Regions from separate parts of the Homo sapiens genome. Here all the other regions are linked to region 2. The links come from fine-mapping of genetic effects on gene expression. A gene starts in region 2. Each other region holds a variant in brackets. All regions are shown on one strand. Distances are from middle to middle.

Region 1 (8,542 bases), 45 kb after region 2:
AATTGAAGGTTTAAGGATTGCTTTTAAGCCTTGATTTGCTTTCCTGGTGCCTTCTGTTGGAAGGGCCTGTTTCTCAATATCAGTGGCCTCCCAGCTACAGCCACAACAGTTTTTGCTTCTGTTTCAGTAGATTTACTAATGTGGGGGTGAGGGTATGCTTGTGTTTTTGCAGGAGATGAACGAACCATGTGGATGCCCTCAAGACGTGTACGACCATGGAATGGGAGACTGGAGGGACCCATGGATCCTAAGCATGGACTGGGTTCCCCAGTACGAGCCATGAGCCAGCTGAATCTGAATGAGAAGATGGAACGAGGACCGACCGGAGTCTTGATGCTTAACAGACCAATGCTTTCTGGCTGAGCTCCTCTCTACCCTGAATACAGAAACCCTAATAGTTAGGCAGGAGTATCATCACCCCTATTCAGCATGAAGAAGTTACAGAAGATGGACCTTCATCCTTCTGCAACCCCTAGGATTAAGGGTCCTGTAAAAGGGAAAGCGGAGATATGTGGGAAGCACTCAAACCAGAGTGACTCCGGTTTGAATAAGGGCTAAGAAAAATGAAGCTGGATCACCAACCGGCAATTAAGGGCTGCACAGCCTGCAATCACCTTGCTAATGATAGCTAGTAATAATACTTTCTCTTTTACAAAAAAGAGAAGGGGGGCATGTTAGGAAAAAGCTGAGTGTTGGGAGAAACTGAGGCAGGGCTTGCATATCTGACATAATGTCCTCTGGAATGTGTCTAGCCTTGCTGGCTCCTTGCTTCTAGCCTTCCTAGGCTCCTACTCCCATTATCTCAAGTAGCAAAACATGTTCCATATAAACGCTAAACCATCACAGCTGTAAATCATGTGCTTAATGCAACATGTCCTTTTGACCTCCACATTCTCACCACATGTTTCTTTGTTGGACTGCCAATAAATAGCATGGGCTCCCAGAGCTCAGGGCCTTCACAGCCTCCACAATGGCGATGGCCCCCTGGTGTCCCACCTTTCTCTTTCAAACCTATTTCTCAATCCTTTGACTCCACCAGACTTTGTCACCCCCATGACCTGGTGTTGGGTCTGATCACCCCAACAGACAATAGATTTGGAAAGAAAACAGAGCTTCTTGGTTCTGGCTGCACTGGAGAAATTTGAAAAAGTACCAGTGCCCAGGCCCTCTACCCCAGAGAGTGTCAATGAATTGGTCTGGGCGTGTTGGAATCAACTGAGAGCTTTTACACAGCACCACTGCCCAGGCCCCACCTGAGCCCCATTAAATTAGAAATGCTGGGGGCGGGGCCCAGGCACTGACGTATTTTGAAGCTTCCCCAGTTGAATTGATTCTAGCTGGAACTGAGAACCATTCCCATCTCCACCCCACAGAAGGACAAAGGAAGGCCATCTGGGCTGGAATGGAGTTGGGAGAAGGCAGAGGCATGGTCTCATAGAAAGGGGGACAGCTGAGTGGGGTCATTCCCTAAACCTGTCACATCTGTATAAATCCTATCATTAATCTCTCCTTAATATGTAAACTACACTTACTATAGCTAATTTAATAAATGGAGGTGTTCTCAACATCTTCCTCCAAAAGCAAAAAACAAAAGCAGCTTTCGTCAGTTACCTTGTGTGAATGTCACCTGCTTCCTGCCAGATCCTGACTGATGTGCTGTGTTAGGCACCTGGTTGCAAAAAAATCAGAGGTGGTCTGGTTGCCATGAGCATGTGGTATAAGACAACATCTGGACAAGAGCTGGACTTGAAAGCTGTTCACGAGCCTAAGTTTAGAAAACGCTTCTGCCACCAACCGTCATTTCCCATGCCTCTCTCAGACCAGAATGGCCACATCTTCCTGTGCTGCTTTTGGCTCTGTTCTCTCCATGCCCATTACCTGCCCCAAATCTGCAGCCCAAATGCCAGCAGAGCACCAGTGTCTGGCCAGCTTCCACCTCAGGTCCTGGTGGGTATGGCGCAGTGGACACCACACCCACCTCCACCCAGAACAGTGCCTTGTGGCTTCCCTGGGTAGAGGACTTCAGACAGGGTAATGTCAGCAAAAAGGGAACAACACGTGGGACTGTAAGTCCAATTAAATCTCTTTCTTTTGTAAATTGCCCAGTCTTGGGTATGTCTTTATCAGCAGCATGAAAACAGACTAATATAATGAATGTCCCGGGATGGTAGATTCCAAACTGTGCTCCTTGAAACCCCTAGGACTTTAGATTTAAATCAGATCCATGAAGTGGCCCAAGAGGATCTTCAGAAACTTAGGAGGGAGTTTAAAGCTGAAAAATTGTAAAAGCCATTCTCCTAAATCAGTGAGCTTTAATGATTCAAAGGAACTTAAAAATTATATCATCAAACATTTTTACTTTCAGGTAAAGAAACCATGGACAGGTCTTGTTTCCCAGGACCTTCTGACAGAGCCTCTACTGATTTTGAGTACAGTCCACGGGTCCAAAGGAGGAAGGATGGACTGGCTGCTGGCCTGCCAATGGCAGGGGTTCATGTGGCTTGGTCTACCTTACCAGTGTCCAGGTTGAACCCTTAATCACTAGTGTAATTCCTCAGTCAAGCCTATGTAAATCCAAGTGCTTATATAAAAATAAGTTATTTCAAATCAGCTTGCGACATCATGATGATGATGATGATGATTACTATTATCATTATTGAAACAGGGTCCTGCTCTGTTGCCCAGGCTGGAGTGCCAGAGGCATGATCTCAACTCACTGCAGCCTCCACCTCCTGGGCTCAGAAGATACTCCCACCTCAGCCTCCTGAGTAGCTGGGACTATAGATGTGTGCCTTCACACCCAGCTAATGTTGGCCAGGCTGGTCTGGAATTCCTGGACTCAACCAATCCACCTCCCTCAGCTTTCCAAAGTACTGGGATTATAGGCATGAGCCACCACACCTGACCCAATTACTTTTAATAATAATAGTGCTTGTGGTGTTGATTAACATTAGGGAACACCATGATTAGAAGGACCCTCTGAAAGGCCCCAGGCAATGATTTTGAACCTTCTCTTTGGGCATGCACTATTTTCAGAAGCTGATGAAAACTCTGGAGCTTCCTCCCAGAAAAATGAATATACTTCAGACACATTCCATCTGTCCCAAAATTTCAGGGGTGTATAGACTCCTTGAAGCCCATACTTGAACTCCAGATTAAGTATTTGTGTTCTTCAGCATACACCCTGGGCAGAATTTTTCATCTGTCTTTGACAGAAGATCCAGATGGCAAAAACTTCATGGTTCACCTTTCCATCTGCCTGGTACACATCTTTTTATTTTAAACTTATTTATCTCATTAACACAGATGTAAAACAACAGTAACAACCCCTTGTTATGCTAGAAAAGGAAATAAGGAGACTTGAGTCACGTAGCCGATACACATGGATAGGAGGGCACTTTTCCTGTCATTAGTACCAAGATGATTGAGGTCCTCTCATCCCAGGCAAAGGGTGAAATGCACAAACCTAACAGCACTTTTTGCTCAGTTACTCTGTGACCTATTCCTGATTTTAGATGCAGGTAAACTAACTCCTGAAAATGGACATTTAGTATTCATATATATACTAAATATTTAAGGTATGTGACCATCAGAGGTAATTTCATTACAACAAAGCATAAAGGAAAACATTTTTCAAAAATACAGGAAAATATACATAGTGTGAGTTTCTCCAAGCCTTAAGAGGATGTGAGGAGCCTTAGGGGGTCACAGTAGCAGTTATAATTCTTGTTCCTACCTGCTACTGCGAGACTTCCAACTTCTTGCAAATTTCTCTCCAAACATTTCTCTTCCCAGGGAGT[G/GTC]TCTCAGCGCTAGTGGTGCTGGACATGATGTCCTACACCATTATTTCCACCAGGTGGCAGCGCTATGTCAACAGGCACTGCCTTCAATTTCCGTAGGGAACCTTCCTCCCAGTGAGACAAAGAAAGCCTTTCTCCCTCTGCATTACTATCAGAGAGTCCCTAAAGAGACTAAAGTTTTGTTTTGCTTTGTTTTGTTTTGAGAGTACAGCTTGTTCAGCCCTCGTCTCTCCATAGGTATCAGACAGGCCCCTGAAAGCCAAATCGGAGACAAGCCAACTGGGCTGTCTTCAGAATTGCCTTGCCCTTCTAATGACAAAGGGCATTTTCTCCCTGATTTGAGGTTAGAAAAAAAAAGAAGACAAAGATGACAGGCTTTGCTGCTGGCTCTTCTCACCACCGGGTTGGTTGAGAGCTTGAGAATAAGACAAAGCTTGGGTGAGTCCAATCTCTGCCACTCGCTAGCTATGAGACTTTAGGCAGAGTAACCTCTCCAAGCCTCTGTTTCCTCATCTGTAAAATGAGGAGAATGATGGTCCCTACTTCATAGGGCTAATGTACAGATTAAATGAGAGTCTAGCATAATCTCTGGTACATGAGATGCATGTAATCAATACTAGAGCTTATTATGATAACCATGTAGACCTACAGAAGTGATACAATTGCTAACAGTGGTTATTTCTGGTGGCAGGATCAGAGACGATTTTTAATTTCTTCTTTGTTTTTCCAAATTCTCTTCAGCACGCATGCATTGCTTTTATAATCATGAAAAGACGCAATTAAAATATAATAGATTGCTGATCCCCTGTTCTTGATGATTCCTCTGAAACATTCAAACTTTCTCTGTGACTCAATGAGCTCCCCAAGGCTGGGCCTATATCTTATCTACTTTGGAGTCTTTGACATGAAACACATAATTTGACACACAGTAGGCAATCAATACTCATTTCCTGAAAAAAATCTCAAAGGCAATTACTTCAGGTTTTAATTTCTCAGTGTAACTAAACATCTTTTTTTCCTCCAAGAATTCTCTTTTCTCACTTAGATTCAATTGCTAATCCTTTTGCCAAATTAATTAAATCCTCTCCAGATTCTCCCCAGTCAAATTCCTTAGACTATTGAGTTGGTTTTAGGCGGTGACATGGTTTGTCTGTGTCCCCACCCAGATCTCATTGTGAATTGTAGCTCCTATACTTCCCTTGTGTCATGGGAGGTAATTGAATCATGGGGGCGGGTCTTTCCCGTGCTGTTCTCGTGACAGTGAATGAGTGTCACAAGATCTGATGGTTTTTTAAAGGGGTGTTCCCCTACACAAACTCTCTCTTCCCTGCTGCCATGCAAGATGTGACTTTGCTTCTCATTCGCCTTCCACCATGATTGTGAGGCCTCCCAAGCCATGTGGAACTATAAAGGAAACCTCTTTCCTTTATAAACTACCCAGTTTCGGGTATGTGTTTATTAGCAGCTTGACAACAGACTAATACAGGCAGGTTTCCAGAAAGCATTTTACCTGAGTTCCCAGAATTCATGCTGGGGGGTGTACGGGGAGAGAGGTGGGAGATGGTCATGGGTGGTTAGATCATTGATTTGAGATCAAATCTTTTCAGTAGCTAAATGAAGACCTAAGAGCCAGAATAACCTAGATTATATAAAGAGATTATAAAAGGAAATAGGCATTTCTAAAAATGTATTACATTTAAAATTGAAACCCATAATGAAGAGGATGATTGTTTTTTACCTGTGGATAGAACACAGGGTTACTGATGATTACACTTGGCTATTGCTGTCATTTGGTTCTTTTGATCTTCACTTTGAGTCAATGGAACTGTTCAGGCATTCTGTAAGGAGGACAGACACCAGCGTGACACTGCCTCAGCATTTCTTCTACAAAAGAAAAGTCAAAATAAATGACATTAGCCCATAGCAGCTGATATATTTTAATTCTTTCCTCATATTATTAACAAACATGAGACTTTCTCTTTCCAGGGAAGTTGGATCTGTATGGGAATCCAAAGATAATTACAGCTGAGCCATCCTGAGATAGAGCCCCTGAGAGGCATAGAAATCTCCAAAGTGGCCTCTTTTTACACAGATTGTGGATATTCAGTTCTTCCTTTGGTCCCATGTTACAAACTAGATTATTCTTTGCTTTAGATATCCAACCATTCAGACTCCTAGCTGAGTCTTACAAGTTTCTAGCTCAGGAGGGAGTTGTTGGGTGGCAGGGGGTGGCTCTGTGGTTGCTGGTTATGTGGGGAACATGTGGGAAGTGCAAGGAGAAAGGAAAGCTCCGGGCTTGCACACGTCAGTCAGGGCTGGTTCCTGTTCCTGTAACCTAAGATTTCTGTTGACATGGTGCCAATTCCCTGGCAGGCATGCAGAGAAGCCTCTGTTCTCTCTGCCGCGCTGTGGCGTCTCACCTAGACACCTGGCCCCTGAAGCAGAGATCTGTCTGCTGCCACCACAGCTCCTCTCTCCAGACTGTTCAGATCTGGTCCCTGTAGGATGGAAGTGCACACACTGTCTCTGCCTGTCCCCAGGGAGCAAGATGTAAACTTCCTCCTTCATCATTCGGGCAAAAACTGAATAAATAGATGAACACCAAATTATGGAAATCTTCATTATGCAGGCCAGGTTGCCAAACATGCCCAGACCTGCTTAAGCTGAGAAGTAAAGGCTGATCAAGCTCACATGTAAAATCCTGGGTTATAAGAAAAATTCCAGCTGACTTGGAACACAGCCCCAACTCCTCCCACATGACCAGCAAAGAGCTGGTCCAGGAAAAATTCCACTTGTTTGGCCGGGTGTGGTGGCTCACGCCTGTAATCCCAGCACTTTGGGAGGCTGAGGCAGGTGGATCACGAGGTCAAGAGATCAAGACCATCCTGGCCAACATGGTGAAACCCCGTCTCTACTAAAAATACAAAAAATTAGCTGGGCATGGTGGCGGGCACCTGTAGTCCCAGCTACTTGGGAGGCTGAGGCAGGAGAATCACTGGAACCCGGGAGGCGGAGGTTGCAGTGCACCAAGATTGCGCCACTGCACTCCTGCCTGGCGACAGAGTGAGACTCCGTCTCAAAAAAAAAAAAAAAAAAAAATTCCACTTGTTCAAAGATGAGTCATCAAAAAGGAAGACATGCAGGATCTCTGCAAATGTAGGAAAGGGATAGGAAAAACCAATGGCAGATGTGGAATACTCACCAGGAAGAGGCTGCCATGGAGCAGACACCGGTCATAACCAAGCAATTACCAGGCACTTAAAAACTTAATGAAATGGTCGCCTTTAAGAAGGAAAAGGATAAAGTGAGCTCAGGGAAATGATGTTAAGATATCAGAAGGTGGAACATGAGCTCAGAAGAAAAGTGGAAAAAGAAAAGAAAGGCAACTAGGACTAGTCAGGGTTCTCCAAAAAAACAGAACTAATACGATATCTATCTATCTGTTATTTTGTGTGTGCATATAAAATATATATAATATTATATGTGTGTGCGTGTGTGTGTGTATATATATATATATATGTATGTATATTCTAGAGGAAGAGAGAGAGTGAGATTTATTTTAAGGAATGGGCTGCCATGATTATGGAGGCTGGCAAGTCCAAAATCTGCAGGGTGGGGGCTGGCAGGCTGGAGACCCAGGAGAGCCACTGTTTCAGTTCAAGTGCAAAGTTCATGTGCTGGCAGAATTCCTTCTTGCCTGGAAGAGGTCAGTCTTTTGTTCTATTTAGGCCTCCAATTGATTGGTTGAGGACCATCCACATTAGGTAGAGTCATCTGCTTTACTCAAAGTCCAATGATTTAAATGTTAATCTCATCCAAAAACACCCTCACAGAAACATCCAGAGTAATGTTTGACCAAATATCTTAGTCTCATGACCCAGCCAAGTTGACACGTAAAATTTAACCATCTTACCTAACCAAACCAATGCAATGATGATTCAAATCAAATTTAACAACAAATTCCAAACTAGAGTGACCTGCTCCCCTTTGGATTGTCTCTTTGAAAGGGAGAGGCCATGAATGTCCTTCCATCAGGGATGAGGGTCTTTGCTCCCTACATTGCCTCCTGTAGTCACTGGCAATGATATCAGTGAATCTAAACTCCCATGAGTGGGTCATAATGAATACTAGACTGATATTAGATTTTATCCTAGCTATCTGAAATAGGAATGACTGGTCTCCCTTGCCCCCAGAACTTTTAGACAGTTGGTTGAGCCCGGGACCCTGGGGACATGGGTGAGATCAATATGGCAGACTTGCTGCACTGTATTGCTTGAAGTCCTGTCAATAGCAGCCTTAATTTTAAATGTGATAGGAATCAAATTAAACAGATTTGGTCCCTCTGTTGGTCAGACTAATCAGAGCAGCTGATGAGGTAGCATACTCATGGGAAAATGTGAATTTGGCCAAGGATCTGTCAGGCCTTGTGGTGGATTTTTGTGACAGGCAATTTGCCACAGGCTCTGATTGTCTCTGCATGCTCTTGCTGGGGATGACAAGAATGCAAGGTCCTGACTGTTCCTTGCTTGGGATATTTCTCAGGGTTGTGTTTGCAGTAGACAGCCTTGACAAAGCAATATCCCCCTGCCCCAGACAAAGGGCAGACTTGCTCACCACTTACTATTAAATTGTATGTTCCCAAGCTCAGTGTTCCTTAGCTGCAGTACAAACACACTGCGTGTACAGTAACCACCTGGGCCCCTCCACATCACCCCTGTGGGACTTGGGGACAAGGAAAACCAATG
Region 2 (8,542 bases):
CTCTGAGAGCTCTAGTCATAAAAAGTATCAAAGCATTTCTAACATGTCCTCAGATGCTTTTACAAAGTATTACTTATTTACTGATTCACCTGCCATCTTAAATAATTGTTCTTTAAAAACTGAATTCAAGTACTTTCAAAATCAACAAAAATATGTAACAATTACAGAAATCTTCATGCCTTTTCACAGTATGAAACTATAAAGAAAAATTATGAAAGACAATAGAATGAAAAATAAGGGCTTCCATCTTTTACATAAGAGATTACAAACATCCCCCCAAATCTTTATCAGAAAATATAGCCTTTCTAGACCTTTTAGCAAACTCACATTATCATGCCTTTTATGTTGACTCTAAAAGTATAATGAATATGTCTGTAGTATGTGGTTTTGAAAAACTAACACACAGGTACACATCCTCACATACAATCTGCTTTCTGAATTAATTACTGTTTAACTTATAATTAGAAGCCACCTACTCATCCAGAGAATTTAAATTGCTTTTGTTCATTTTCCATACTACTCCCCACACTTCATCGCCAGGACTCTGAAAAATGGTGGCTATCCCTCCATGCCAAGTTTGACTTGTTTTGCCTTGGGAATTGCCAAAGTCAAGCTTAAAATCCTACAAAGGAAATCAAAGTGATATGATCAATATCCACTTGAATCCAAATTTCCCTCATCAAAATAAAAAGGATTTACCTTGAACTCCATGCAATTAAAACAGTCAATAAACTGAGTTCCTTCTATGCATAAGAAGCTGTGGAAAATATAAAGTTAAACAGACAGGACCCAGATCCCAAGGATTACGTTTTTTAAATATTTTTCTTTAAAAATGAAACATACACTGAATATGTATAGACATCTTAACAAAAACAAAAAGTTTAAGGAAAAAAAATCCCATAACCCCAATGCCTGAACACAATTGTTTTCATTTTTGCAAATTACTTCCCAGTCTTCTTACATACACATAAATTTTTACTTAGAGACAAGCTGGGTGATGGCTACATGTGGGTTATAATATTCTCTCTCCTTTTATGTCTGTAGAGTATCCTACCAACATATATCACCAAATTTGCCCTGAGGGACCTGGCATTTGAGGATGAATGATTTGTGTACTTATGAACACTAATACTCACGAATTATACTAATTTATCTACAATAATCATAAGAGCACCTAACACTAACTGCAAATGGGAAGGCCATTTAAGCAGGGGACGAGCATGCCCAAAGACATGGATAAAAGAGTGTGTTTTGGGGGCCAGGTGCAGGGGCTTACGTCTGTAATCCCAACATTCTGGGAGGCCGTGGCGGGTGGATCATTTTGTACACAGTGCTATTGGCTAATATATAATTATGGACCATTCCGTTTTATTTTGCTAACAACTTTCTTATACCCATTTTACAGCAATAAACACTGTGGGTTAGAAAGATTAAGCAATCTTCCTAAGGTCTTGGAACTAATAAGTAATGAAATTAGGTTTCTAGTTTAACTTCTTTCCTCACAGAGGTGGGCAATCAGGGGATAGAGTCCTGGGGAAGATTAAAAATCCTTACATGAAAAAACAAACTAAAAAATAAACAAAAACAAAACAAATAAAATACAGAATCCTTATGTGGCTTATTTGGTCTAGGAAGATTTCTTTCCATCTTTCCAGAGCTTAGTTTCCTTATAGATAAATTTAAAAAGTTGAACTAAACGATAATTCTAGGATCCTTTTCAGGTTTATATTTTATCCCTGTCACTTATATTTTCTAGAAAAACTTGTCAGACATCTCAGGAATTGGGGTGGTTGGAGTGACCAGTACCTTTATTCAGCATAAGAGATGTTCTTCTAGGACCACATGTCCCTGGCAGGACACCAGGAGATGTGATAAAAGTTACAATTCACACTAACTGGTTGTGTATTGCTAAATCCAATAAACTATTTTCATTCCTCATCTTGTTCCACTTCTCAGCGGAACATAGGTAACCACCTTCTCCTGATCTGCCTCTTTCCTGATTTTCAGGCTGTTCCTTGATCTCAATCCCCTTTGCCAACTCCTCCTCCATTACCTGATTTTTAAATGTTGGAGTTGCTCAAGGCTCAGTCTAGGCCATGGGTGTCCAACCCTTTGGATGCAAGAACTTTTTTGCTTACCTGTGGTGGCGGACATCACAAAAATTATGCATGGGCCTTTTTTTTGTTTTTGTTTTTGTTTTAGCTCATCAGCTATCATTAGTTTTAGTGTATTTTATGTGTGGCCCAAGACAATTTTTCTTCTTCCAGTGTGGCCCAAGGAAGCCAAAAGGTTGGACACCCATGGTCTAGGCCATTTTCTCTATTCATTTGGCAATTTGCTCAAGACATTCTCATCCCCTCCAATGGCTTCAAATATTCTGATCATCTTTAAACCCAGACCAGATCTCTCTTCTGAGCTTCAGAAGTGCTTAGAACAGGGCCTAGCACACAGTAAGTACTTAATAAATGTTTGCTAATATTATTCTGTTCACTTGACTGTTTAGCAAGCATTTCAAATTCAAAATGTTCAAACTGAACTTAAAATTTTCTCCTCCCAAGCCGGATTTTCCTCTTTTCTCTGCAAACATCACCTGCATCTACCTGGTGCCAAAAACCTGAGTCATCTTTGGTATTCTCTTCACACTCAATCACTATGCTTTAACAATGTTATCTCCAAATTAGTTCTCAAATCCATCCACCCTGCCCTGCCACCACCCTAGTTCAAGATGCCATTCATTATCTTTGGCATAAATTGCTGCAAAAACTTCTTGAACTCTCCACATTCACTCTTCCCTCCTTCAAATCTATTTTCCATGTGACCAGAATGGGCTTTTGGAGATAGAAATCTATCTTTCATGTGCTTTAGTTCTGCAGTGTGTCTTATTTGGCTTCTGTGGTCCTGGAAGATGTGGCCCTTCCACATATCTCCAGTCTTCATGCCACATTCCCCTTACTAAACTCCAGCCACACTGACTGAAAGATCCAGCTTCCTCTTTCTTCAGGTCCTTTGCAGAAGATGCTGTTCCCTGTTTTGTGTGCTCCCCACCTCTACAATCATTCAGGTCTCAACTTAAAAGTCACATTTTCAGGCAGGGCTTTCCTGAGCATCCTGGTTAGGTCAGGTACCCTGGTCATACGCCCCATTGCACTTTGCATGCCTCCTTTTTAAGATGGACCATATACCTGTAACTGAATAATCCCTTGTTTAATATCTCTTCCCCTTGCCCTGACTGTAAGCATTTGGACTCCCTTCCTACAGTTGGGAAATTCCCTACCTTACGAGTTTGGGAATAGGGAGTATCAGAGCCTGACTCCCATTTTTGAGGCTTCAAAGGCCAGAAGCTGGTTCTCTCAGTTTTGCTTAAAATCACGGCATGGGTACGTGGCCAAAACTTAGCCAATCGGGACATTCTGGGGCTTTCAATTAGAAGCTAGTGCCCAAGACAGCAGGGACTCCAGAGAGGCTGACACATTTGGGTTTCAGGAACTGCAGGGATGTACAGAGGCAGGCAGTGTCCAGGGCAGGGGGTGGTGGACAATACAGCATCCACGTTTACCAAGTTCAGCAGTGGCGTGGAAGAGGCTCCGTGGGCTGGTTCTGTTGTGTGATGCCCACTGTATTACAGTTGCTGTGCCTCCCTTTATGCTTGTCCGTTTTGTCAGCTTTGTACTCCTGCCTTCCTGGTCATTCTGTGAGCTCTCCAATAGCCTTTCAACACATTCTTTTTTTTTTTTTTTTTTTTTTTTTTGCTTAAATCAGCCAGTTTCTGTTGCTTGCAACTAAGAACTCACGATGTTAGCAGAGATCATGTTTGTCTCATTCGACGCTGTCAAAAAGGTTTTGAACATAATCTATTGCACCTCTGTCCTACAGACTGAGAGTTCCTCGAAACAGCCACTTTACTCAATCATGTTTATACCCTTAGTGTTAAGTGCCGGAAGAATATGTACTAAATGAATGAATGGACTGGGCTGAAGAGCAATGATTTACCAACACTGGTTATAGTTCATGCAGCCCCTTGACCTAACTGAACACAGCATTATTACAAATAAGACATGGTCCCAGCTTTCAGGACCTCTTAGATGAGGAGCGAAAGGCAGGTAAACGGATTTTCACAATGCCAGGTGAGAAGTGCTGTAACAAAGGTTATGTACAGAACAGAAGGCAACCAATTCCCAGACACGGGTCAGAGAAGACTCTCCAGAAGTACCAACTGTATGCAATCTGTTAAGTTAGTGGACGAGAGGCCAAATCGGTGCAGACCGAGCAGCCGGTGCAAAGGCCAGGAGGGGGAAAGCTCCAGGCAGCCCGAGAGGGCACCGTGGCCCGGGCAGGGCCGGGCAGTGGGCGCAGCGGAGGAGGTGGACCCGCCCAGGAGGCGGAAGCCGCGTCCTAGTACCCTCATCAAGAAGAACTGCATTCCTGGCCCGATCGGCCACGTGTGCCCCCGAGGAAGCGCCTTCTGGGCATCCCGGCCCCGGCGTGGGTAGCGCGGGAGGGGGCACTCACCTGCAGGCGGGCCACACAGAAGAACGCCGCCGAGGGGTTTCGGAGGTGGATCCTCTCTGTCAGCAGGTTGCTGCCGTAGGCAAAGTACAGAAAACTCTCCTCATCTGGACCCGTGACGTCCTTGCAGCCCGAGTTGGCCATATCCCACTACGCCCCTGCACTGGAGCCTGAAGCAGAGTGTAAGGAACGGCCAGAGAGCGCAACACTGGGGCCCACTACCCCGGCGCAGTGACCGCCGCGCGGCAGCCTCAGGGTTAGGGGACTGGCGGGAAGCGTGGGCCGGTCGAGTCAGGAGCGAGCGCTCTCCTGATTGGCTGCCGGTCCCCACCGACCTGAGTCGCCCCCTTTGATTGGCCATCCCCACGGCCTTCCCTCCGCCTTCCGCCGAGACTCAGAAATAGTCTGTCCTGAAGCAATCCGGCGCTGGCTCCTCATTGGACACGACCTACTGATGTCCCGCCCCTCCTTGCTCAAGGCTTCCTCTGATTGAGGGGTGGACAGGCACTCCTCACAGGCGGGTCGGGTCCCATGGACACTGGCTGAAGGTCGTGGCGCGTGACTGGTTTCTTCGCTCTGGGGTGCTTGTGTGTGGTTCTTTGGTACTTTCTGTGCCTTAGGAAGTTCTGGTCAGATCTGAGGCGAAACAGCGGCCCAGGCGACTCCATCAACGGCTCCCTCATCCGGCAGCTCGCCGGGTCCTGCCTTCCTGGCCTAGAGGAGTCGGGCAGGACGGGTCCGTTCACCCTTTCTGCTGGTTCCGGCACCCCCAGCACTGGTCATCAATCTGACCCCTTTCCACGGACCCGTCGCCTGCTGGAGCGGCCCCTCTGAATGCTTGGGACTCCCTTCCCTGTTACATGGAAGTTACATGCCTGGGCTTAAATCCCGACGCTGCCATTTACTAGCCAAGTAACTTTGGGCACCTCTGGTCTCCGTTTCCTCTTTTTAAAAATCGGGATCATAATATAAGTTAGGGTCACAGTAGAAACCCCTATATTGTGTTTTGGTTACCCCCTCCCACACACACACACATCCTGGGTGTATTTTTTAAAACCTATATTGTTAACTTTTGAATGAACATAAGGGCATAGGAACATTGTCTATCCTTGACACCCAGCTATTAATCTCTAAATACCACCCCCCACTAAAAGGTACCAAGTGATCCTTCGAGAAATGACTGATGCCAGGTCAGGAGCTAGGAGTGAATGAGGACAACTTGGAACATCTTGTGTCAGAAGCTCAGGACGCCTCTCAAGACGAACGAGGTCCTTCTAAAAGGACATGGGAACCAGCCTGAAGTTGCCCACTGGCCAAAATTAGAACAATTTGAGAATCAAAAATAACAATGACTGCAAACTGAAAAATGATTGGAAACTTTAAACATAAAAAAGCCATTCCCCCCAAAGAGTAATCCAAATTAAAAAAAAAACTATAACTTCATTTGCCACACTATTGGTGGTGACTATTACACCAACTTTACTCTGCAAAGTGATAATTTAAGAAAACAAACAGGTATTCCGCCTTTCTAGTAGCAGCTGTATTTCGGGGTAACTGAAATACAGCTGATGACGAGCATCAGTTGATGAGGAAACAGTTCTCTTTACAAAAGTATGCCAACTAAGTCATCCTAAATGAATAATGGAATTTTATAATTGATTCATGCCAGGATCATCAGTGATATCATTTGGTGAAAAGGTGATAGGGAACAGGATATTCACTTGATGCCAAATTACTCCCTGAGGATTACTGCTGGTTACAATTTATTTATTTTATTTTTATTTTTTTGAGACAGAGTCTCACTCCGTCGCCCAGGCTGAAGTGCAGTGGTGTGATGTCGGCTCACTGCAAGCTCCGCCTCCCGGGTTCACACCATTCTCCTGCCTCAGCTTCCTGAGTAGCTGGGACTACAGGCACCCGCCACCATGCCTGGCTAATTTTTTGTATTTTTAGTAGAGACGGGGTTTCACCATGTTGGCCAGGATGGTCTTGATCTCCTGACCTCGTGATCTGCCCGCCTCGGCCTCCCAAAGTGCTGGTGTGTCCGGAATTGTGGGTTCTTGGTTTCACTGACTTAAAGAATGAAGCCGCTGACCCTCGCGGTGAGTGTTACAGTTCTTAATGATGGTGTGTCCGGAGTTCGTTCCTTCAGATGTTCAGATGTGTCTGGAGTTTCTTCCTTCTGGTGGGTTTGTGGTCTCACTGACTTCAGGAGTGAAGCTGCAGACCCTCGCGGTGAGTGTTACGGCTCTTAAAGGCGGTGCATCTGGAGTTGTTCATTCCTTCTGGTGGGTTTGTGGTCTTGCTGACTTCAGGAATGAAGCTGCAGACCTTCATGGTGAGTGTTACAGTTCATAAAGGTGGCTCGTCCAGAGTTGTTCATTCCTCCCATCCGGAGTTGTTTGTTCCTCCCGTCCAGAATTGTTCGTTCCTCCTGTCTGGAGTTGTTCCTTCCTGTGGGTTCATGGTCTCGCTGGCTTCAGGAGTGAAGCTGCAGACCCTCGCGGTTGAGTGTTACGGCTCTTAAAGGCGGTGCATCTGGAGTTGTTCATTCCTTCTGGTGGGTTTGTGGTCTTGCTGACTTCAAGAGTGAAGCTGCAGACCTTCATGGTGAGTGTTACAGTTCATAAAGGTGGCACGTCCAGAGTTGTTCATTCCTCCCATCCGGAGTTGTTCGTTCCTCCCGTCCAGAATTGTTCGTTCCTCCCGTCTGGAGTTGTTCCTTCCTGTGGGTTCATGGTCTCGCTGGCTTCAGGAGTGAAGCTGCAGACCTTCGTGGTGAGTGTTACAGCTCATAAAGGCGGTGCGGACCCAAAGAGTGAGCAGCAGCAAGATTTAGTGCAAAGAGTAAAAGAACAAAGCTTCCACAGCCTGGAGGGGGACCCAAGTGGGTTGCCCATGCTGGCTCTGGTGGCCTGCTTTTATTCCCTTATTTGGCCCCACCCACATCCTGCTGATTGGTCCATTTCACAGAGAGCTGATTGGTCTGTTTTGACAGAGCCCTGATTGGTGTGTTTACAAACCTTTAGCTAGACACAGAGCACTGATTGGTGCATTTACAATCCTTTAACTAGACAGAAAAGTTCTCTAAGCCTCCTACCTGGTTAGCTAGACACAGAGCCCCGATTGGTGCACTTAAAAACCTTTAGCTATACACAGAGTGCTGATTGGTGCGTTTACAAACCTTTAGCTAGGCACAGAGTGCTGATTGGTGCGTTTACAATCCTTTAGCTAGACAGAAAAGTTCTCCAAGTGCCCACCCGACCCAGAAGCCCAGCTGGCTTCACCTGTCACTGGGATTACAGGCGTGAGCCACCGCGCCTGGCCTACTGCTGGTTACATTTTTACAACACAGGGAAATCTTGCCCCTCCTACCTTAACCCAGAACAATCTTATCACCATAAAAGTGGCCCAGCCTGACATTAAATATCTCCCAATTTGATGCAATATGAAGCTCCAGCATCATCTATGAAGTATTCTTTCCAAAAAATTTTAACCTCAACATCATCAAGCCTTTAAATCTATCTTCCTGTCTCAGGAACTGCAAGGATAGAAGAATAAAATTACAACAGGAGAAAACAACCAGAAAAACCCAGAATAAATGGTGGAACACCCTACTGAACACATGGCCCAGTGTCTTCAATAAGTCAGTGTCATTAAAAAGAAAAAAAGCAGCACTGAGGGATGGCTGCTCTAGATTAAAAGAAATTTTAAAAATGTGGCTGGGTGTGGTGGTTCACACCTGTAATCCCAGCAATTTGGGAGGCTGAGGCAGGCAGATCACAATGTCAAGAGATGGAGACCTTCCTGGCCAACATGGTGAAACCCCATCTCTACTAAAAATACAAAAATTAGCTGGGCATGGTGGCATGCCTCTAGTCCCAGCTACTCGGGAGGCTGAGGCAGAAGAATTGTTTGAACCTGGGAGGCAGAATTTGCAGTGAGCCAAGATCACGCCTTTGCACTCCAGCTTGGCAACGGAGCAAGACTCCATCTCAAAAACAAACAAACAAACAAACAAACAATAACCAAATGT
Region 3 (8,542 bases), 110 kb after region 2:
CTTGAAATTCTTAAATTGGAGGGCATACATCATTTTACAGGATTTGGCACTGATGATCAATGTATAGAATGTGCAATACACTGGAAAATGCTGAGGTGAATAAGATACAGCTTCTGTCTTCTAGGCGCTTAATATCTAATGGGAAAGGAAAGTTCAATGCACATTTAATTACTCCATTGAGGAGAGGGTGGTGGCTATTAATAGTATATTTGCTTGACTGGATCTTTAAAATACAGAGAAATGCAGAAATGCACCTTAAATATGTTCAGAGTAGTAAAATTCAGCTTTGAAAACTTATTTAGGTAATTTCAGATTCTTGCCAACCAATAACTATTATAATTGAATAAGAGGTATTTTGCTTTATCTTTCACTTTGAAACAGTGACTATATGAGTTTTAGGTCCCAGAAGGATATTTTTTTCTCTCTTGATAAATGGAAAGTGAATAAATTGGTTATGGTTTTAATGTGGGTGTCCTGAAGGTTAGGTTAATTGTGATGTTCCTGAATTTTGTGTGATTGTAGCAGTGGATGGCTAGGGTTATATATAATACTTTATATCTTATGCCTTGTTTTCTCTGTCTTTTACACTAATTTCTTTATATGTCTTTTAGCTTGATAACTATGGACAGCAAGAACTTGCGGATCTTTTTGTGAACTATAATGTAAAATCTCCCATTACTGGAAATGATCTATCCCCTCCAGTGTCTTTTAACTTAATGTTCAAGACTTTCATTGGGCCTGGAGGAAACATGCCTGGGTATGTATCACTTATTGTTTACCTGTTTATGTAATGAAGTTTTTAAAATTGCTTATATTAAAAGGTAAATATCAATGTTATGAAGGAAAAATTTTTAAAAAGTGATATACAGAAGTACAGATGAATGTATTATGGAGAAATAATGGCAGAAATAAATCTTTTAAAAAATTCTTTCTGAATATAATTTCTTTTTTGGCATATATGTATTTTTTTGGCATAAAATAAAGTCTCTGATCACTATATCTTCTAGTTATAGCTGCATAGGGTAGAAGGGACAGTTGAAGAATGGTTTTAAAAGCCGTTGAACTTATTGCTGAAGGATATTTTAGAAACCATTTAGTTTAGCATGCTACTGTCCAACGGAACTTTCTGCAGTGATGGAAATGTTCTGTAATGTGTGTTGTCCAGTATGATTAGCTACCAGCCACATTTGGCTCTTGAGCACTCATAATGGGTCCAGTTCTTCTGAGGCACTGAATTTTAAAATTTATTTCATCTTAATTGAAATTTAAATAGACATCTGCCTGGTGTCCTACCATATTGGACAGCATAGGTATAGCCTGTTGATTTGAAAGATGTGGTTTTCATGGATAAAGAATATCTGGTTAGTTTACAGTATGATTCAGAATTGGAATCTTTATCTTCTGATTCCTTGTCCACTGTTTAACAGACTTAGCCAGTGTTCCATTTCATAGCTTTAGATATTTTTCTATGATAGGGTAAGAGAGTAAGTTTTTCCTACATGAGCTAGATAGATCGTGTTTCCCAGAGTAGGGACTGAAGAATAAGAAAAATTAATTGTGACAAAATGTGTTGCAGTTAATTATTCTAATGAGACATCAGGTTGATTTGGAATATTTCATGGAAAGAGGCCAGTGGCAAGCCTTTCATTTTGGCCATATGTACAGAGTCATAAAATGAGACATAACCTGTGACCCAGACATTCCATTTCTGGGAATTGATCTAAGGAAATAATTCAGAAGGAAAGGAAATTATACTTAGAAGAAGTATATAAATTGAAAGTAGAAATAACCTATTCAGTAATTTGAGAGTGGTTAAACAAATTATGGTAAAGTGGATTAGTTTGGGATAATATTCTGTCACTATTAAATGTGAGAAATTTGTGCCATTATTTAGAAAATGGGAAGTATAAAATAGGTAATACATGATTTTATACATACTAACTGTAAATATATGTATAAACTTTACTTACATTTGGATGAAATCTGGAAAGGGCCATAAAAATCAAAAGAGTTGGTCTGTTAAGTAAGAAGAGGGTACAATTTTAGGGTTTTTAGCCCTTGGTTTTAAAGTTATTTTAGTAAAATACTTATTCTGAAGTAGGCCATTGGGAGCGTTTCCTTAGTGGATGTTTTGCACAGAATATCTTCTAGGAAATTGAGAGGGCAGTGGTTATAGTAGTGTATTTGCTTGACTATATCTTTAAAATACAGAGAAATGCGGAAGCCTCTGGTTGAAAATATAAAATACTGCAGATAATAAAATGATTTGAAAAACATTGAAAATTACCTGGCTTGGTGAGGTGATAGTGATAAGTGAGTGCTGATGTTAAATGTGAGCCTATACTGATTTCTTTTTAGCCCCTCAGTTAAGTTTTAATATGTGGGTTAACAGGGCTAAACATAGGCATGGGTATTATTTTCCAAAGGACCTAAGATTGTCATCTGCCTCCATGTACATGATGACTTAGAAGACATCAGGGGTTTAAGGGGCACTATGGGAGAGGTGGTGTTTTTTGTTTGTTTGTTTTGAGATGGAGTTTCGCTCTTGTTGCCCAGGCTGGAGTGCAATGGCGTGATCTCGGCTCACTGCAACCTCTGCCTCCCAGGTTCAAGCGATTCTCTTGCCTCAGCCTCCTGAGTAGCTGGGATTACAGGCATGTGCCACCACGCCTGGCTAATTTTGTGTTTTTAGTAGAGACAGGGTTTCTCCATGTTGGTCAGGCTGATCTCGAACTCCCAACCTCAGGTGATCCGCCCACTTCAGCCTCCCAAAGTGCTGGGATTACAGGTGTGAGCGACTGCGCGCGGCCTGAGGTGGTGTTTTTAAATTTATTTTTATTTCTGCTTTTTGAGAAGTGGGGTTTTGACTCACTGGTGTAATTAAATGAAATGGCATTGCCAAAGTAGTACTGCCACACTAATTACTTAATACATTTTCTAATACGTGCTATGAAAATGTTTGCTACCGAGGAAAATATTTCTAAAACTTCATTTTAGGGCCTGTTCAACTTTGTTGTGAAAATGGTATATTTAGGACTTTTAGGATTTGTATCTAGAATTTCAGGATTGTTGGAAAACATAATTTCTTTCTTTGTAACAGACTGACTTACTTAAATTTATAGGTACTTGAGACCAGAAACTGCACAGGGGATTTTCTTGAATTTCAAACGACTTTTGGAGTTCAACCAAGGAAAGTTGCCTTTTGCTGCTGCCCAGATTGGAAATTCTTTTAGAAATGAGATCTCCCCTCGATCTGGACTGATCAGAGTCAGGTACTGCTCAGGTTACTCTTACAAATTAGTGAATGACCTTGGCATTGCATTGAAAATGAAAGCTTGCTGTTTTGAA[G/A]CAATTCTGCTTCATAATCCTGATTATGAATTTATTTTTGTTTTCTCCAAAAATCATGTTTTACATTTGGAATCTCTAAATGTAATCTCCAGGATGACAGGCAGTTTTGAGTGACAAAAGTGAACTTGAAGGGAAAGGAAGGAGGGTGGAGACTGTCTTAAGAGTCTCACCTGCTCCAAAATTACCTTTTTCCTTGTTCATCGTATATTTTGAGGATGGTAATATCTTGATTGTCTAAACCAAGGCAATACTGGCAATGGTGATGTGTATAAAAGGGTGGGGTCGGGTGGGGGTAGGGTGAAAGTTGTGGCAGGAGGATTGTTCTAGATATCTAGGGCAGACAACATTGCTGAAGTTGGGGTGAGGATGTATCAGTAACCAACTGGAGTTCTGGAAACAACCTCCGTCCAGGTATTTGGGGGGCCTATATGACAGAAAGGCCAGCAAGCAAGCTTACCCTCATCACTCACTTGGCCTCTATTCAAATAGCCTACTTTTGTCTGATCTATCCAGGGATGTGTGGGAAGGCATATTGGGGCTGGTGAGTTCTATATTTCTTTAGAAATTTATTATGACTCAGCTGTTTATGACTTAAGTTTTTTGTGATTTCTATACGTTATTCCTGGTATCATCTCTTAGAGTAATACATTCCATATAAAATACGAGGTGTAGCTAAACATAACTTTCTAAGGCCCCAAAGTGTTTTCCCAGCCCCAGCGCCCACCCATTTCCTGTCTTCTCTTCTTACTCACTGTAATTACAGACTTGGGTCATAACATAGCCCAGTCACTGACTCTGGATCAAAGCATCCACAGCACCTGCCTCATCTTGTTAGTTCCCATGATGCCATCTGGGAGAAGATGCCTATGTTCTGCGCAAACTGTATCTCTAGGCCCTACAGGTTTACGGTTTAGGAAGGAGGGACTTACAGAGGAAAGAATGTGCCCAACTTAGAGAAAGTTGGGGGAATGACCCCTCTGAGCTTTCATGTAAAAAGAGGAGGTCATCAGAAACTTTAGCCAGGTATGATGGCAATGACAAATTTGTCAGATTTGAGTCTTTGTTTTATTTCCCAGTGTCTGAGTGTTTTTGTTTTTTTGTTTTTCACCGTTTCAATATCTAGCAAGTATGCCTTCCCAAACTGAGGAAGCTGCGTAAGGCTGACCTTGTCTGAAGCCAGTGTTACGAAGAGGGTTTACACAGAGTAGCTATGGGAAGATTATTGAGAAGGACTGAGAAGTAAGGCAGTGTCTGGGGCCTGTGCAGTAAAAAAGTGGTGAGTAGGGAAACCAGCTTGGAACTTGGGAGTGATCCCAGGGGTTAACTGGTAGAAAGGCTCTGGGGCTTCTCAACAGTGGATTCTTTGGTCATTTTCACTTCAAAGTGTCATGTCTGAATTCTGGCTAGTTTTGTTATGTCCCTTGCAAGTTCCTGACCAGAAGTCCACTAGTTTTTTCATGAGTCAGCATCCTCCTGGCTTTTGTTCCATGGTAGGACTAGGATTGGTTTATTTAGTGTTCTGATTCTTCTTGATGGCAGAGTTCTCTGGTGATTAATCTTTGCATAGCTGTATTTCCTTTTGTCCTTTTGTTAGTTTAGAGGTATTAGATTGTTCATATGAAGATTTTTCTAAAATTTTATTTTATTTTGATTGACTTATCTGTCTTCCTAGCCTGTGTGTATTTTAGTTCTCTACAGTTTCAGGTACAGTTGCTGAACTGAGATACAGTTACTCAGAATTCTGATGATTCCTGCCTCCTATCTATGAGCTGAGATTATTGATGAGTAAATTTTGTATGATTTGTATGATTTCAAGTCACACAGTGTGGTGCTTTGATATGCTTATACATTGTGAAATGATTACCACAGTCAAGCTAATTAACATAATTATCACCTCACATAGTTACTTTTTTTTTTTTTAGTGGTGAGATCTACTTAACATCTACTCTTTGAGCGGATTTCAGGTATACAGTGAATCATTAACTATAGACACAGTGCTGAGATTTGTGACAGAACAGATGGAAAGACTTTGGCAGCAGCATTTTGGAGATTCTAGGCAGGGCCCGTAATTTATCCTGTCCCACATTGTAGATGTTCAGTTGCTGTCAGCCCAATTATAAGCTATGTGAGGACAAACACCATGTTTGTTTCTCTCACATTTATATGGGCACAGAAGATGTTTCCTAGTTGTTGAAAGACAACTAAAACATAGGTGCAGCAGGACCAAATAAGAGACACTATTAAAAAATAAAATTTAAAAATTAAACCTCTTGGCCGGGCGCAGTGGCTCACGCCTGTAATCCCAGCACTTTGGGAGGCAGAGGCGGGCGGATCATGAGGTTCAGGAGATTGAGGCCATCCTGGCTAACACAGTGAAACCCTGCCTCTACTAAAAATACAAAAAATTAGCCGGGCGTGGTGGCGGGCGCCTGTAGTCCCAGCTACTCGGGAGGCTGAGGCAGGAGAATGGCGTGAACCCGGGAGGCGGAGCTTGCAGTGAGCCGAGATCGCGCCACTGCACTCCAGCCTGGGCGAGCGAGACTCCGTCTCAAAAAAAAAAAAAAAAAAATTAAACCTCTTTTGCAGTGTATTTCATGTATTTTTAGGATCCATTTAAGCAATTTTACATTACTCGTAAAACATCTGAGATAATCATGGAAGCACACCAGAAAATGTGATTTTTCTTGAAAGAAGAGAGATTGATTTTGACTCATAAAATTAACTTGAAACACTTCTCCCGCAAATAGCTACTAAATTGCATTCAGAGAAATCTCTTTGGGAAACCATTACTATGTGCACTTCATCGTTAGGTAATTAGCTTGATGTTAGCTTGTTCAATTCATGCCTTATATCCTTTGCCTTGAATAACACTTTATTTAAGAAGCTCTTGCTCCAAAGAAACCAACTGTATGATGCCATTATCAGTCATTTACTTTTTTGTAGCAGTAAAAAAGAAGAAATCAAACTGCTATGAAAGCTAAAGAACCATTTCATTTCGCTTTTAATTTCCCATTCTTTGAAATGGGATGAAGAAACTTCATTTAGTGTATACTTATAAAGACTTGCTAATGCTTTAAGGAAAACCATTTTATCTGCATGTCACTATTCAATATCTTATTTCTTATTTTTCATGTGATTTTTGCGTATGTTTTCCTAATTTAAAAAACTATATTAATCTGCCTTTAACAAGTTATTTTCAGTTAAAAGTAATAATCTTTTTGGATGTAGCTGGAGGGAAGGAATTAATACTTCAGAGAAGTTAGATCATGTTTATTTTAAATAGTGAGTAATAAAATTTTCATTAATGTGTTTAAAAATAACCTTCACATGTACCCCATAAATTTGTACAAATATAATACATCAAAAAAATAAAAATAACAACTACCCAGACAAATTTAATTCAAAATTTTTTTGGCCATTCCCTTAGGAAACCAACTTTCTGTTTAGTGAAAAAGACCACTATAGTATGGAGCCTTTATCACTAGAATGCAGTTGAAAATAGAGGCCTTGTTTTTTGTTTGTTTGTTTTTTGTAGTTAAATATGCAGGTTTATCGCTTACGTTTTTGCTTTCAGAGAATTCACAATGGCAGAAATTGAGCACTTTGTAGATCCCAGTGAGAAAGACCACCCCAAGTTCCAGAATGTGGCAGACCTTCACCTTTATTTGTATTCAGCAAAAGCCCAGGTCAGCGGACAGTCCGCTCGGAAAATGCGCCTGGGAGATGCTGTTGAACAGGTAGGATTCTGGAGGTAACTTAACTTAGATTGTGCCTGTTCAGGGTTTGCAGCAATTAGCAAATTCTATGTGTTCTGGGTGACAAGATATTTTATTTTGGCAGTCATTTGCTTTTTTACAGTACTTGGTTTTGTACAGAATTTGTTATACAGTATTATTATAGTAAGAGAAAAATCACCTGAACATCTCAATTTGTGGGCCTTGGGGCTAGCATGAAAAAAAATGTTTAGCAGAGCACTTGGAAAATAGATCTTGGTTTGCATTGTGCCTCACCAATCTGACTCAACAGTATGTACTACTTTGGGGGAGACAGCATTGGACCCACAGAAAGCAAGCCATCTGGGTTTCAGACTCTTCTGTATTACCCATAGCAGTGGAATAAGGCCTTGCATATAAGCACTTTGTAAATATTTGCCTGGAGAAGTGAGTGCGTGAAAACTTGCCAACAGTAGCTGCTGTCCACTAGTGGAATGAGTTGCCTCAGGGAGCAGTGAGCTTCCTGGCCCTGAAAATACTCCTGGCAAGGTTGGACGATAGCTTGTCAGCCACTTTGCAGAGAAGACCTCTGCAGTGTATGGAGATGGGGCTAGATGTTTTCTAAGGTCCTTGCAAACACTAAAATGATTACGTGTACTCTACGGGGTTCACAAATTTCAGTGGGTAAGGATACATTAAAATCCCCTCAACGTGTCATTACTTTGGTTAATTCAGAGGGGAATGTCTTTGCCATTCTTTAGTGTCAATTATGAATATTGTTTTTAGTACTGTAGATTTAGAGGTATGAGGTACTGGGCTGAATTTTTGCTGACCCAGTAAGTATGTTGGACAGATTTTGAATAACTCCATTATCATCATCTTGACATTAACCCATTAAAAAATAACCAAGATCTCATTCTGAGTATTTGAAATTGTTTTGAAAGCAAGATAAAATAGTTTGTGTTGGGTGTCAAATATTTTTCAGTAGAGTGAGTCAATGGAAACCGATATCTTGGCTTTGAAGAGTATTAATGTGTGTTTTCTTTTCTTCCTCCATGCTTGCTTATTGGTTGGTTTAGGGTGTGATTAATAACACAGTATTAGGCTATTTCATTGGCCGCATCTACCTCTACCTCACGAAGGTTGGAATATCTCCAGATAAACTCCGCTTCCGGCAGCACATGGAGAATGAGATGGCCCATTATGCCTGTGACTGTTGGGATGCAGAATCCAAAACATCCTACGTAAGTGGAGTGCTGTTTACCATGTGATTTTCACATTGTTAACTTAGAAGCACAGGTACCAAATGAATTTTTGTGCACTTTATGTCACAGAGGAACAAAGGGAAAAGAAAAGAGATCTTTTCCTGAGCAAAACAGAAAAAGCAGTTGCCTCCTGCCTTTTTATAAGTGTCCTAAGGAGCTCGTTGTAGTCTTAGATAGCTGAGAGACAGAGTTAGTGTATGATGGGACAGTGCGGAT

Alleles and levels. Alleles are on the strand shown, and positions count from the first base shown. SD is a standard deviation of normalised expression in the study named. Not every link is listed here.
As copies of G replace GTC in region 1, the expression in unexposed skin of the gene that starts at base 4,770 in region 2 goes up (small effect, 0.28 SD a copy in GTEx).

The links. PIP is the estimated chance that this variant, and not a neighbour inherited with it, causes the effect. A credible set is the group of variants that fine-mapping cannot tell apart.
Region 1: its variant is the best candidate, but not a certain one, in a credible set for the expression of GGCT in unexposed skin (GTEx, PIP 0.54).
Region 3: its variant is the best candidate, but not a certain one, in a credible set for the expression of GGCT in lung (GTEx, PIP 0.79).

The regions. Positions count from the first base shown.
Region 1 is chr7:30,545,101-30,553,642 of GRCh38, forward strand. GARS1-DT (GARS1 divergent transcript) reads right to left here. Exons shown (of 7, transcript NR_038889.1): 6 at 7,000-7,079; 7 at 3,257-5,681. Among named protein-coding and RNA genes, the nearest start is that of GARS1-DT, 28 kb to the right of the region's middle. RefSeq lists an enhancer at 3,589-4,090. The variant G/GTC (reference allele first, on the strand shown) is at 3,801.
Region 2 is chr7:30,500,060-30,508,601 of GRCh38, forward strand. GGCT (gamma-glutamylcyclotransferase) reads right to left here and starts at 4,770. Exons shown (of 4, transcript NM_024051.4): 1 at 4,510-4,770; 2 at 477-622. The coding sequence starts at 4,650. RefSeq lists enhancers at 3,978-4,857, 4,506-4,715, 4,858-5,736, 5,156-5,245 and a silencer at 4,176-4,355.
Region 3 is chr7:30,608,974-30,617,515 of GRCh38, forward strand. GARS1 (glycyl-tRNA synthetase 1) reads left to right here. Exons shown (of 17, transcript NM_002047.4): 7 at 612-757; 8 at 3,123-3,272; 9 at 6,923-7,085; 10 at 8,141-8,305. Among named protein-coding and RNA genes, the nearest start is that of GARS1, 18 kb to the left of the region's middle. The variant G/A (reference allele first, on the strand shown) is at 3,349.